2 separate regions of the Homo sapiens genome follow, and region 2 is linked to region 1. The links come from fine-mapping of genetic effects on gene expression. A gene starts in region 1. The other region holds a variant in brackets. All regions are shown on one strand. Distances are between the middles of the regions.

Evidence for each region. PIP is the estimated chance that this variant, and not a neighbour inherited with it, causes the effect.
Region 2: its variant is the best candidate, but not a certain one, in a credible set for the expression of ZBTB5 in esophagus mucosa (GTEx, PIP 0.83).

Annotation. Positions count from the first base shown.
Region 1 is chr9:37,462,322-37,467,551 of GRCh38, reverse strand. It overlaps ZBTB5 (zinc finger and BTB domain containing 5), which reads left to right and starts at 2,102. Exons shown (of 2, transcript NM_014872.3): 1 at 2,102-2,337. RefSeq lists enhancers at 437-1,122, 1,123-1,808, 1,809-2,494, 2,495-3,180 and a silencer at 2,175-2,274.
Region 2 is chr9:37,437,436-37,442,665 of GRCh38, reverse strand. It overlaps ZBTB5 (zinc finger and BTB domain containing 5), which reads left to right. Exons shown (of 2, transcript NM_014872.3): 2 at 111-4,564. The coding sequence starts at 115. The coding sequence ends at 2,148. It also overlaps a transcript of GRHPR not described here. Among named protein-coding and RNA genes, the nearest start is that of GRHPR, 17 kb to the right of the region's middle. The variant C/GTTTC (reference allele first, on the strand shown) is at 2,878.

The DNA of each region.
Region 1 (5,230 bases):
CACATTTAGGTTTGTTGTCCACTTACCCCCCCCCCCCCGCCCCTTGTACTTACAAAGGTGTGGTAAACAGCCTTGGGTTTATTATTCCACATCTTTGTATTTCGGTAGCATATATTTCTAGAAAGGAATTACCATCTAGAAGGGAACAAATGCATATTTTAAATTTTGATAGATACTACGAAGTGATCGTCAAACAGGGCATCAGTGACACCCCCGTCCACAATATAGCGGGTGTCCACTTCCACACACTCCTAAATTCTGAATATACAATTTTTAAAACTTTTGCCAGCCTGTAAATCTGAGGCAATCTAGGTCATGGCATTTACCGTTGAGAGACAGATACGCAAAAGAATCTCTCCTATTGCCTGGCTTACTGTCATCATTCCATATTTTCCTTATTTTACCGATCAATCTGTCAGTAAAATATGTGTGATGGCTATAGTGTCAGCGAATCTTAAGGAAAAGAATTAAACATCAGACTCCACCGAGCCCTTAAAGAAATCCACGCAAACAGGTTGCTTTTTGAAATCAACACTTCCGACCAGTAACTGAAGGGATGGAATCTGCTGTAGGGGTATTCGGTGTGTTCCATTCTTAAAGCGGGGAGTTCCTTTTTTTTCCCCCCAGACGAAATCTCACTCTGTTGCCTAGGCTGGAGTGCAGCGGCACGATCTCAGCTCACTGCAACCTCCGCCTCCCGGGTTCAAGCGATTCTCCTGCCTCAGCCTCCCGAGTAGTTGCCTGGGATTACGGGCGCCCACCACCACGCCCGGCTAATTTTTGTACTTTTAGTAGAGACAGGGTTTCACCATGTTGGCCAGGCTGGTCTCGAACTCCTGATCTCGGGCGATCTGCCCGCCTCAGCCTTCCCAATTGCTGCGATTATAGGCGTGAGCCATCGCGCCCGGCTGGGAGTTCCATTTTTCTGGGAGCTCCTCCAAGACCCTTACCCCCACCCCCAGAAGAACCCAGCTGAGTTCGCGGGCCTGCCTTTGTCTCCAGAGCCACGCAGCGCTCCCAGACACGCTGCGCCGGAGAAGGCAGCTTTCTTCTGCCGTCCTCACCCTAGGAAAGGGGGTTTCTTCCCTGGCCCCAGTGTCCGATGCTCAGGGATCGGGTTCTCCCTCCGAGGGTGCACCTGGAAACCCGAGCGTCGCCCCGGGGCTCGCTTTTTTCAGACCGCGTCCCATACAAGTCCGCGACCCTTCCACGTTTGGGACAGGAGTGGGAGAGCTTAGCGCTTCCTATTTTTTTGTGGGGGGAGTGCAGGTGATTATAAATCTGGGCATGCAGACTACAGGCTTATTTGACCTGCAGCCGAGTGCGGGGCCAAGCGCCGGGCTCCTGGGGCGCCACCGTTTCCAGACGCGCAGCCACCCGGACTGGACGAGGGGCGGGGTCCGACCTAACTGCCATCCGATGGACAGCGTTTTTTATTCGCGGTTTTCACCCTGGACTTTGGCTTAGTTAAACCTAAAGAGCTTTTTGGAATCTTATCTTTCCCAACGTCTATGAAGTGGGAACTCAATCTCCAGCCCTCTACGTGTGTGTGTGTGTGTGTGTTCAGCGAAGGGAATTCACCCCGGAGAAGAGCCCTGGGTCACTAAAGCGCCGGGCACCACGAGGGTGGAAAAATCCTTCAGAACCAGCCAATGGCGGTACGGCCTGCCCTGAGGGCCCGCCTCTCCGGCGCCCTCAGACATCACGCAGTCGTTGTTGTGATTGGCGGATTTAGGCGGAAAGCCCGCTAGCCTAAACCACAGAGGGTTTTGATTGGTTGCAGCGAACAGCCGCATTTCTATAGTCCAAACCTGGAGCAGTTTAGTGATAAATCCCGCCCTAAAAGGCATTTGATAACCGTTTTACATGTTGTAAGGCAAAGGGTGATTGGTCAGAGAGCTCACGGATTCAGTCGGTAGTAAACACAACCAGACTTCAGGGACCGTGGATTGGTCAGTTTTTCCGGGGGCTAAGTAAATTCCTCCAGGTTCCGCGCGCCGGCTGGCTGCACTCCTACCCCGGCCCCGCCCTTCCCATTGCTGATTGGTTGCAGCCCAACTGGGAGAGGCGGAATGGGGCGGAGTAGGCGCTCTTGCATTACGTCACTTCCGCTTATCCTCGGGCGCCGCCGCCGTGTTCTCAGAGTGCTGCGGCGAACTGGCTGGAGGAGCTAGGGGACTAGAGGCGGGGTGGGAGGGGGGCGGGTGGAAGGGGGAGGAAGTCCCGTAACGGAGACGCTGGTCAGGACGTTCCCACCTCCTCTGACACTGCCGAGTCCGATCGGAGAGGGGTCACCGCCTCCTTCAGCGAGGAGGAGGGGGGCGGAGCCCGACTCAGGTGAGGAGACCCCGTCAGCGAGTATCGTGATGGCGGGCGCGCTCACGTGGGGAAGGTTGAGCACCAGGGGCGCGCCAAGGCGTCGGGGAGCGCGCAGACGTGTACTGGTGCCCCCGGACTACTCTGGCTGTCTTTCGGAGGGGAGCATTGTTACCGTTGGAGCCAAGGGGCCAGGCGGGTTCTTCTGCGCAGGCGTCCCCGGTGTCCCGACGCCAGGCTGTCTGCGGGGTGGGGCGGGGGCTGGTACTCCTGTGGATCCCCGGCTGGCGACGTAGGTTCCCGAATGGGGTGGGAAAGGCCTCAGGACCAGCGGCCTGGCGGGATGAAGAGAGGATCTGCTGCCCTGCGGGATGTGGTCGGACGGCTCCCTTGCCCCCATCCTGGGTCTTGAGCGACGAGGTTTCATTTCACCAGAGCAAGGCCATAGGCAGACTGCCATCGGGAGCCAGCGGCCGACCCTGGAGGGGTGGAGCCAGTGTTTCGGAATGCCCCAACTTGTTATGAGAGGACTGAAGTGTTTAATAGGCATTTATTGAATGCCCACTACTCCCAGGCTTCGTGCGAGGAGCTGTGGGGGATGCGGTGGTAAGACACTGCCGTCCCATCTTCTCCTGTTTGGAGGACAGATTTGTATGTAAATAATAAAAGGCAGTGAATTAAGGGGTGTTGAAGGTTAGTTTTTTCCTTTCATAATGGTCATTTTTTTTTAAGTCAGTCAGCATTCTGGCATAGTGAAGGATATTGTGGAAACTAATTTTCTGAACAGAAGGCAAATCCTAAATAATTTGGAGGAAAAATTTTAGGTGAAAGCACAGTAAAGTTGATTACTAAGTAGTATCTTCTGACTCTAGTTAACTTGAATTAATAGAAGGAACTCTTCACCTTCAAAAATTGAAGCAAAAATATTCCAAAACATGTTCTCATATTTTTCACTTGTATTAAGTAGAGGACATTACGGGCTTTTCTTTAGAGGTTGAAGAGAATGCTGTGCCTTAGTCATTAAGTCATTGGTAATTTGTTGTCCTAGTATGGGCTGTTGTGCTTAGATGTAAAAGGCTGGGCAGAACTTGCTTTTCATTTGCCTAAACTCTTGTGATTTCTGTGGGGACGGTGGTTGGCAGTAAGCTAATAGTTCAGAGGGAAAAGTCCAGATGGGAAGAAGACAAGGAATTTTAGAGAAAAGCCCCTAAGCCAAAGGAAACCGTTCACTCTTCCTTTTAACCCTTATGGAAATCTCATCAAATTTGGGAAGATTGACCTGGCCACCACAGCCAGCTTGGTGACCTTACAGGTAAGACTACTTGGGTGGGGACCTGTTTTGGGCCCTTGGGTTTTGCTGAATAAACAGACTCTTTTTTTGAAGAGTCCTGAAGTCAACTCGTTTACTAGAGATTTGCCCCTTTTCCCTAAAAGTTGTGTCAAAACATAACTTTTAGTTAGCTGAGGATGCTGGCAAGCTGGATTTTGGTTAATTGATATGTCTCTAGCAGAATTCTGAAAATGGTAAGATTTGGAGGAAAGGCATCTTACAGACTTAGGAGCGAACGCTCTCAAAAGAGACTCACAAGACTGTCCCCAAAGTGGAAGTAATAAAAAATCACTGGGATATCAAATAGTACTTAAAGAACTCAGCATGAATTATATCGAATTGGAGACTTTAAAATATCTTGTGTTCAGTGAAATTGACAAAACCTGGTGTAGTGCTGACAGAGAATCTTGAATCTGGCTCACATTCGTTTTGGAAATGGAAAAAAGAACCCAAGGTATTGATTCTATGTTAGCTTTCAACTTTTTTTTTAATGTAAATTAATTTTAAATACTTTCCCCCTCTGTCAGTTTTAAGCGTGTGATTTTTCTTTTACTGTACGTAATATTTCTCAAATATGGATGTTGTCTAGTAGAGCCAGTTTTGTTAGTGTAGCAGGTGGGATGGAATGTAGCACTACACTATGCCTTTTGTCTAAGTATGAAGTGAACTTCTCATCTCCTAAAAGACCAGCTGTTTCTGAGTGAACTATTGCTCTTTGCATATGTTCTCATCATTTTCACCACTGAATAGTAGCTTTTAATTTCAAGATCCAGTTTTAGAGGTGCCTTTCATTTTATTAGTTATACATGTATTTCCTAAAAGCTTTGATTTATCTTGACATCCCAAACAGATTAGGTTACTCTGACAATTCGAAGGGTGAGGAGGGCAGAGAAGAATTTTATTGAGTGATGGAACAGCTCTCAGAGAAGAGGGCATGCAGGGGGTGGTCTCTTTCCCAGTGTGGCTGGTTCCGGGGCTTCTTAGGGACTCAGAATGGGGAGTGTGTGCTGATTGGTTTCTGATGCAAAAAGTTTAAAGGGAAGGCCGGGTGTGGTGGCTCACGCCTGTAATTACTGCAATTGGGGAGGCTGAGGCGGGCAGATTGCCTGAGCTCAGGAGTTCAAGACCAATCTGGCCAACATGGTGAAACCCTGTCTCTACTAAAAATACAAAAATTAACCCGGCATGGTGACGTGCGCCTGTAATCCCAGCTACTCAGGAGGCCGAGGCGGAAGAATCGCTTGAGCCTGGGAGGCAGAAGTTGCATTGAGCTGAGAGCATGCCACTGCACACTTGGAGTCTTGGAGACAGAGTGAGACCCTGTCTCAAAAAAAAAAAAAAAACGGTTAAAGCAAAGACACCACTCAAAGGTGGGCACGACAGTGTAGAAAACCAATTAGGAAAGGGGTAGATATATGTAAAATAGGTGAAGGGTGGGGATCAGTCAGAGGAAAGCATGCCAAATGGGAACACAGGTTCTCAATCTGGTCCGTGGATTTGACTTGTAGCTTGGCTTTCAAGCTTTTAAACTGTCTTCGGCTTGGAGGTGGGGTTTCACTGGGGATGTGCCCCTGTCTGCCTAGG
Region 2 (5,230 bases), 25 kb after region 1:
TTCAAAGGTCCAAGCTTGGCCATCCATTCCACTCTTTTCATCATACCCTTTGTGTTCTGACTTTGAAGCTTTTCTAGGTCTTAACATTTTCTTTCTTTGTTTTTCTGTAGGATCATGGATTTTCCTGGTCACTTTGAACAAATCTTCCAGCAGCTGAACTACCAGAGACTTCATGGCCAGCTCTGTGATTGTGTCATTGTAGTGGGGAATAGACACTTTAAAGCCCACCGCTCCGTGCTGGCAGCATGCAGCACGCATTTCCGAGCCCTGTTCTCAGTGGCAGAAGGAGATCAGACCATGAACATGATCCAGCTGGATAGCGAGGTGGTGACAGCAGAGGCCTTTGCTGCACTGATTGACATGATGTATACCTCCACCCTCATGCTGGGGGAGAGCAATGTAATGGATGTCTTATTGGCAGCCTCTCACCTGCATTTGAACTCTGTTGTTAAGGCATGTAAACATTACTTAACGACAAGGACGCTGCCCATGTCTCCCCCCAGTGAGCGCGTTCAGGAGCAGAGCGCCCGCATGCAGCGCTCCTTTATGCTACAGCAGCTGGGACTAAGCATCGTGAGCTCAGCCCTCAATTCCAGCCAGAATGGCGAGGAGCAGCCAGCCCCCATGAGCTCTTCCATGCGCAGTAACCTGGATCAGCGCACGCCCTTCCCCATGAGACGCCTTCATAAGCGCAAGCAGTCTGCAGAGGAGCGGGCCAGGCAGCGCCTCCGACCCTCCATAGATGAGTCTGCCATTTCAGATGTTACACCGGAGAATGGGCCTTCAGGGGTTCATTCTCGGGAGGAGTTCTTTTCACCAGATTCTCTGAAAATTGTGGATAATCCTAAAGCTGATGGAATGACTGATAACCAGGAAGATAGTGCGATCATGTTTGATCAGTCTTTTGGCACTCAAGAAGATGCCCAGGTGCCCAGCCAGTCTGATAACAGTGCTGGCAACATGGCACAGTTGTCCATGGCCTCTCGTGCAACTCAGGTTGAGACTAGTTTTGATCAGGAAGCTGCACCTGAGAAAAGTAGTTTTCAGTGTGAAAACCCTGAGGTTGGCCTTGGTGAGAAGGAGCACATGAGAGTGGTGGTTAAATCTGAGCCCCTGAGCTCACCTGAGCCTCAGGATGAAGTGAGCGATGTGACCTCACAAGCAGAAGGCAGCGAGTCTGTGGAAGTGGAAGGAGTTGTGGTCAGTGCCGAGAAGATAGACCTCAGCCCTGAAAGCAGTGATCGGAGTTTTTCAGATCCCCAGTCTAGCACAGACAGGGTAGGTGATATCCATATTTTGGAAGTCACAAATAACCTAGAGCATAAGTCCACTTTTAGTATTTCGAATTTTCTTAACAAGAGCAGAGGAAATAACTTTACTGCAAATCAGAACAATGATGATAATATTCCAAACACCACTAGTGACTGCAGGCTGGAGAGTGAGGCCCCCTATTTGTTGAGTCCAGAGGCTGGGCCTGCAGGTGGGCCCTCCTCTGCCCCTGGCTCCCATGTAGAGAACCCATTTAGTGAACCTGCAGACTCCCACTTCGTCAGGCCTATGCAGGAGGTGATGGGCCTGCCGTGTGTGCAGACTTCAGGCTACCAAGGAGGAGAACAGTTTGGGATGGACTTTTCCAGGTCTGGTTTGGGCCTCCACTCCTCCTTCTCCAGGGTAATGATAGGTTCCCCAAGGGGAGGAGCCAGTAACTTTCCTTACTACCGCCGCATAGCTCCCAAAATGCCAGTTGTAACTTCCGTCAGGAGCTCACAGATCCCAGAAAACTCTACCAGTTCTCAGCTAATGATGAATGGAGCTACGTCCTCATTTGAAAATGGCCATCCTTCCCAGCCTGGCCCTCCACAGTTGACCAGGGCATCTGCAGATGTTCTGTCAAAGTGCAAGAAGGCCTTATCAGAGCACAATGTTTTGGTTGTAGAGGGAGCTCGCAAGTATGCCTGCAAAATCTGCTGCAAAACTTTTCTGACTTTGACAGATTGCAAGAAGCACATCCGTGTTCACACAGGTGAAAAGCCTTACGCCTGCCTGAAGTGTGGCAAGAGGTTTAGTCAGTCCAGCCACCTGTATAAGCACTCAAAGACTACCTGCCTGCGCTGGCAGAGCAGCAATCTTCCCAGCACTTTGCTCTAGCTGTTTGTCCTTACAAGACAACGCTGAGGCCAGTTGTCAGACTGAATTTCTTTTGGTAAGCAGTTAATGCCTTTGGGTTCGAGGCTTCCAGCTGCCCAGTGGCTCTTAAACAGTTTAGCAACTAATAACCGGAGAACTAACATGTAGTATTTGTGCTGCTGCATTTCTGAGTGAAGTGCACGTCTTGGGAAAGGGATGCAATCCCTGAAACCAGGTGCTTCCTTGGGGTTGAGTAATGCAGTCAGAAAGTAGTTTGTAATTGATATTAAAAGTGGCACATTTAAAAATTTAAAAATTGAAGTGCAAAAAAAATTTTTTAGCAATTTTTGTAAAACTGTGTAGCATTTAAATTTCCTATACCTTCTGATGGGAGTATTATATCCCTGTATAGTGATGCAAAATGCACTTATGTGTAACCAGTGGTGATTTGGTGCCTGTCTTAAAGGAAGGCCTTTGAGGACACACCTGTCTGCCACAAATGCTTTAAAGTGTATCATGAGCTAGTCCTAGGCCTCAAAGTACTGTATTTTTTATTTTTACCTGATTTGCAGTCATAAACACTGCACTTTGGTGCTGACACTGGGTCCAGAGTGAGCATTCTCTTGGACTATTAGATGTATATACTTTTGAATACATCACTGTTGGATAGATGTTTTAACAGTTTTTTCTGGTTTAAAAACCAAATTGTAAATGGAGTGTGTACTTGTAGAGAGTGACAAGGTATTGTTT[C/GTTTC]CCTATGTGCTGTTTGAGCAGTATTTTAACCAACTTGTATTACAGATGTTACAGTTCCATGTTAGGAAGTCAGAAAAGACTTGTGTTTGTCTTTGTTCTGCTGATGTGGAGTCATGTTTTGTGGGGTCTTCCATGGCACATTTACCTGTTGCTCCGTCCAGATGTTGAGGGCCAGTCTAGGCTGACACATCCTACCCGAGGACAAGCCTGTTCTCCATTTCTTCACTCTCCCCTCCCCATATAGCAACTCTCCCAGGTTTAGATTACCGTTTTCGACGACAGATTAACCAAAAATGCCCCACACAGGTTTTATTACTGTTATATACTATACTTTTAACAGTACAGACCCTAAATTTTATTATTTGTTGCTCCCCCAATCTGATACCAAATGTTTAAAGTTGTTTGAAATCCAAACATGGTAGTGTTCATGGGTAAATATTTTCTAGGCTATGTAAGAGTTAGCAGCCCATAGCATAGAAGTAATCAAGTAGCATCTGAGACTGTTGGAGGCACTAGGGCCTCTCTGGGCCCTACAGCCTCACTTCCCCAGCCTCACCTTGCTGTCCTCTGACACTGCCATCAGGGCTGTTAGTGGCACCTGTATGAGGCCAAGTGTGCGTCCAGGGGAACAGCACAGGTTAATGCGTCTCCCTAGAACTCATGAAGTCAGTTTAATTCATGCATGAACATGAGTTCATTTTATGTTTTATATAGCTTTCTTAGACATACCAAACCATCATTCATAAATCAGATAAATTATTCAGTTTTTGTGTTTAGAAAGCTAAGTATGTGTAGCTGGAAACAAAAATGAGCGTGTTTTCTCTCCTGTTAATCTAGAGTGTGCAGTTACACATGTGTGGATAATTTCATGTTCCAGGGGCGCTTGGCATCTCCCATGGACTGATTCCCAGGAAGAAAAGCCCAAAGGGAAACCCACGATTCCTTTCGAGTAGATGTGGGAAAGAGCCCATTGGAGGATATGAGGTCCTGTGAAATTCAGTTGTGTGTGTGGCTCCTTGTTAGCAGTCATGTTGACATGGTGTTAGGAGGCTCCCCATCCACCCTTTACATGATGTAGGGACCAGTGTCTTGTGAGATTAACCTTGGGACACAGTGGGTTAGCCTGGAGAAAATGAGAGGCCCTGCCTGGACCCAGGGAGAGGAGCCAGTGACACAGGCAGAGCGGTGCAGCCCTCCTTCCCTTCCATTTGGAGGAGGTGGTGCCAGGAGCCTGCCCGCTTACCTCTGCTGAAGCATAAGTGGACTTTGCTTTTGGGGCTTATCTCTGATACATGCTGGAGCCCTGCCTCTCCACTGCTAGATGGAACCTGGAATCTCTCATCTACCTCTTAGTCTGTCAGTTTCTACGTGTGAGAAGCAAGCTTGTGGGCCAGTGTCCTTGTACATGCTGTAGCACTTAAAAAATAATTCCAGGGTTCCCTGGAAAACCAGTCCCAGGGTTCCTATGATCTGTAGTTTCTACCTGGATTATAACTGGTTTTGGGTACCTGAATTTTGATTGGTTAGCCTTAATTATAGTCTGGCGTGATCATGTAGAATCTTTTCTGGTGAACAGATCATAAAGTTCTATCAAGGAGTTCTATCAAGGCATCCATGTCAGTGGTGCTATGCTGGTTACAACTTGAGATTTTTGAAATAAAAAATTTGTCATATTCATGCCTCTAAATATGTGTTCTTTTTCTTTACGTTATTAAGGTTGAAACCAAAGAGGGTAATATCTCTTTGCCAGCCCTTCTTTGACTAGTACTTTGTTTTAAACCAAACCTTCTATTAACAGTTAATTGGTCGTTCCTCTCAAATCATTCCCTTCTGCCTTCCCCCGCCTTTTCTGTCTTTGAGCTACGCACATGCATGAGATTTTGCTTTTCAGTCTACCCAGTTGCTCTCTGAGGGCCTGCGTAATCTTGTGCTGCTCCCTGGACCTGCCTCCCAAGTTGGAAACTCCATCTGCCAGTTTGGCTTGGCTGCTGGGAAGAGCTGGAAGCTGATTCCTTGAGCACAGAGCAAGGCATTGGCAATGGCAGTGCTGTGGCCTGACCTTGGAGAGAAGTGGGTAAGGTGGTGATTAAAAAAAAAAAAAATCCACCTGGGGGCAGGGAGGGGCTGGGGGGACAGAATGGGCAAAGGGAACAATATGTGTAGGTGCTGAAACTAATTTTAAAATTAAACCCACCTACCTCTAATCGTTCTGACCAAAATAAGAGTTACGTCCTTACCTAGTTCTCATTTCTTCCAGTTAACTCCTTTTCTGGAAGTGCTCCTTAATTTTCCTGATGGTCTAGGTATCAAGATTCAAGTGCCATGGTCACAACTGGGTTCTGTTTGTCCCGTC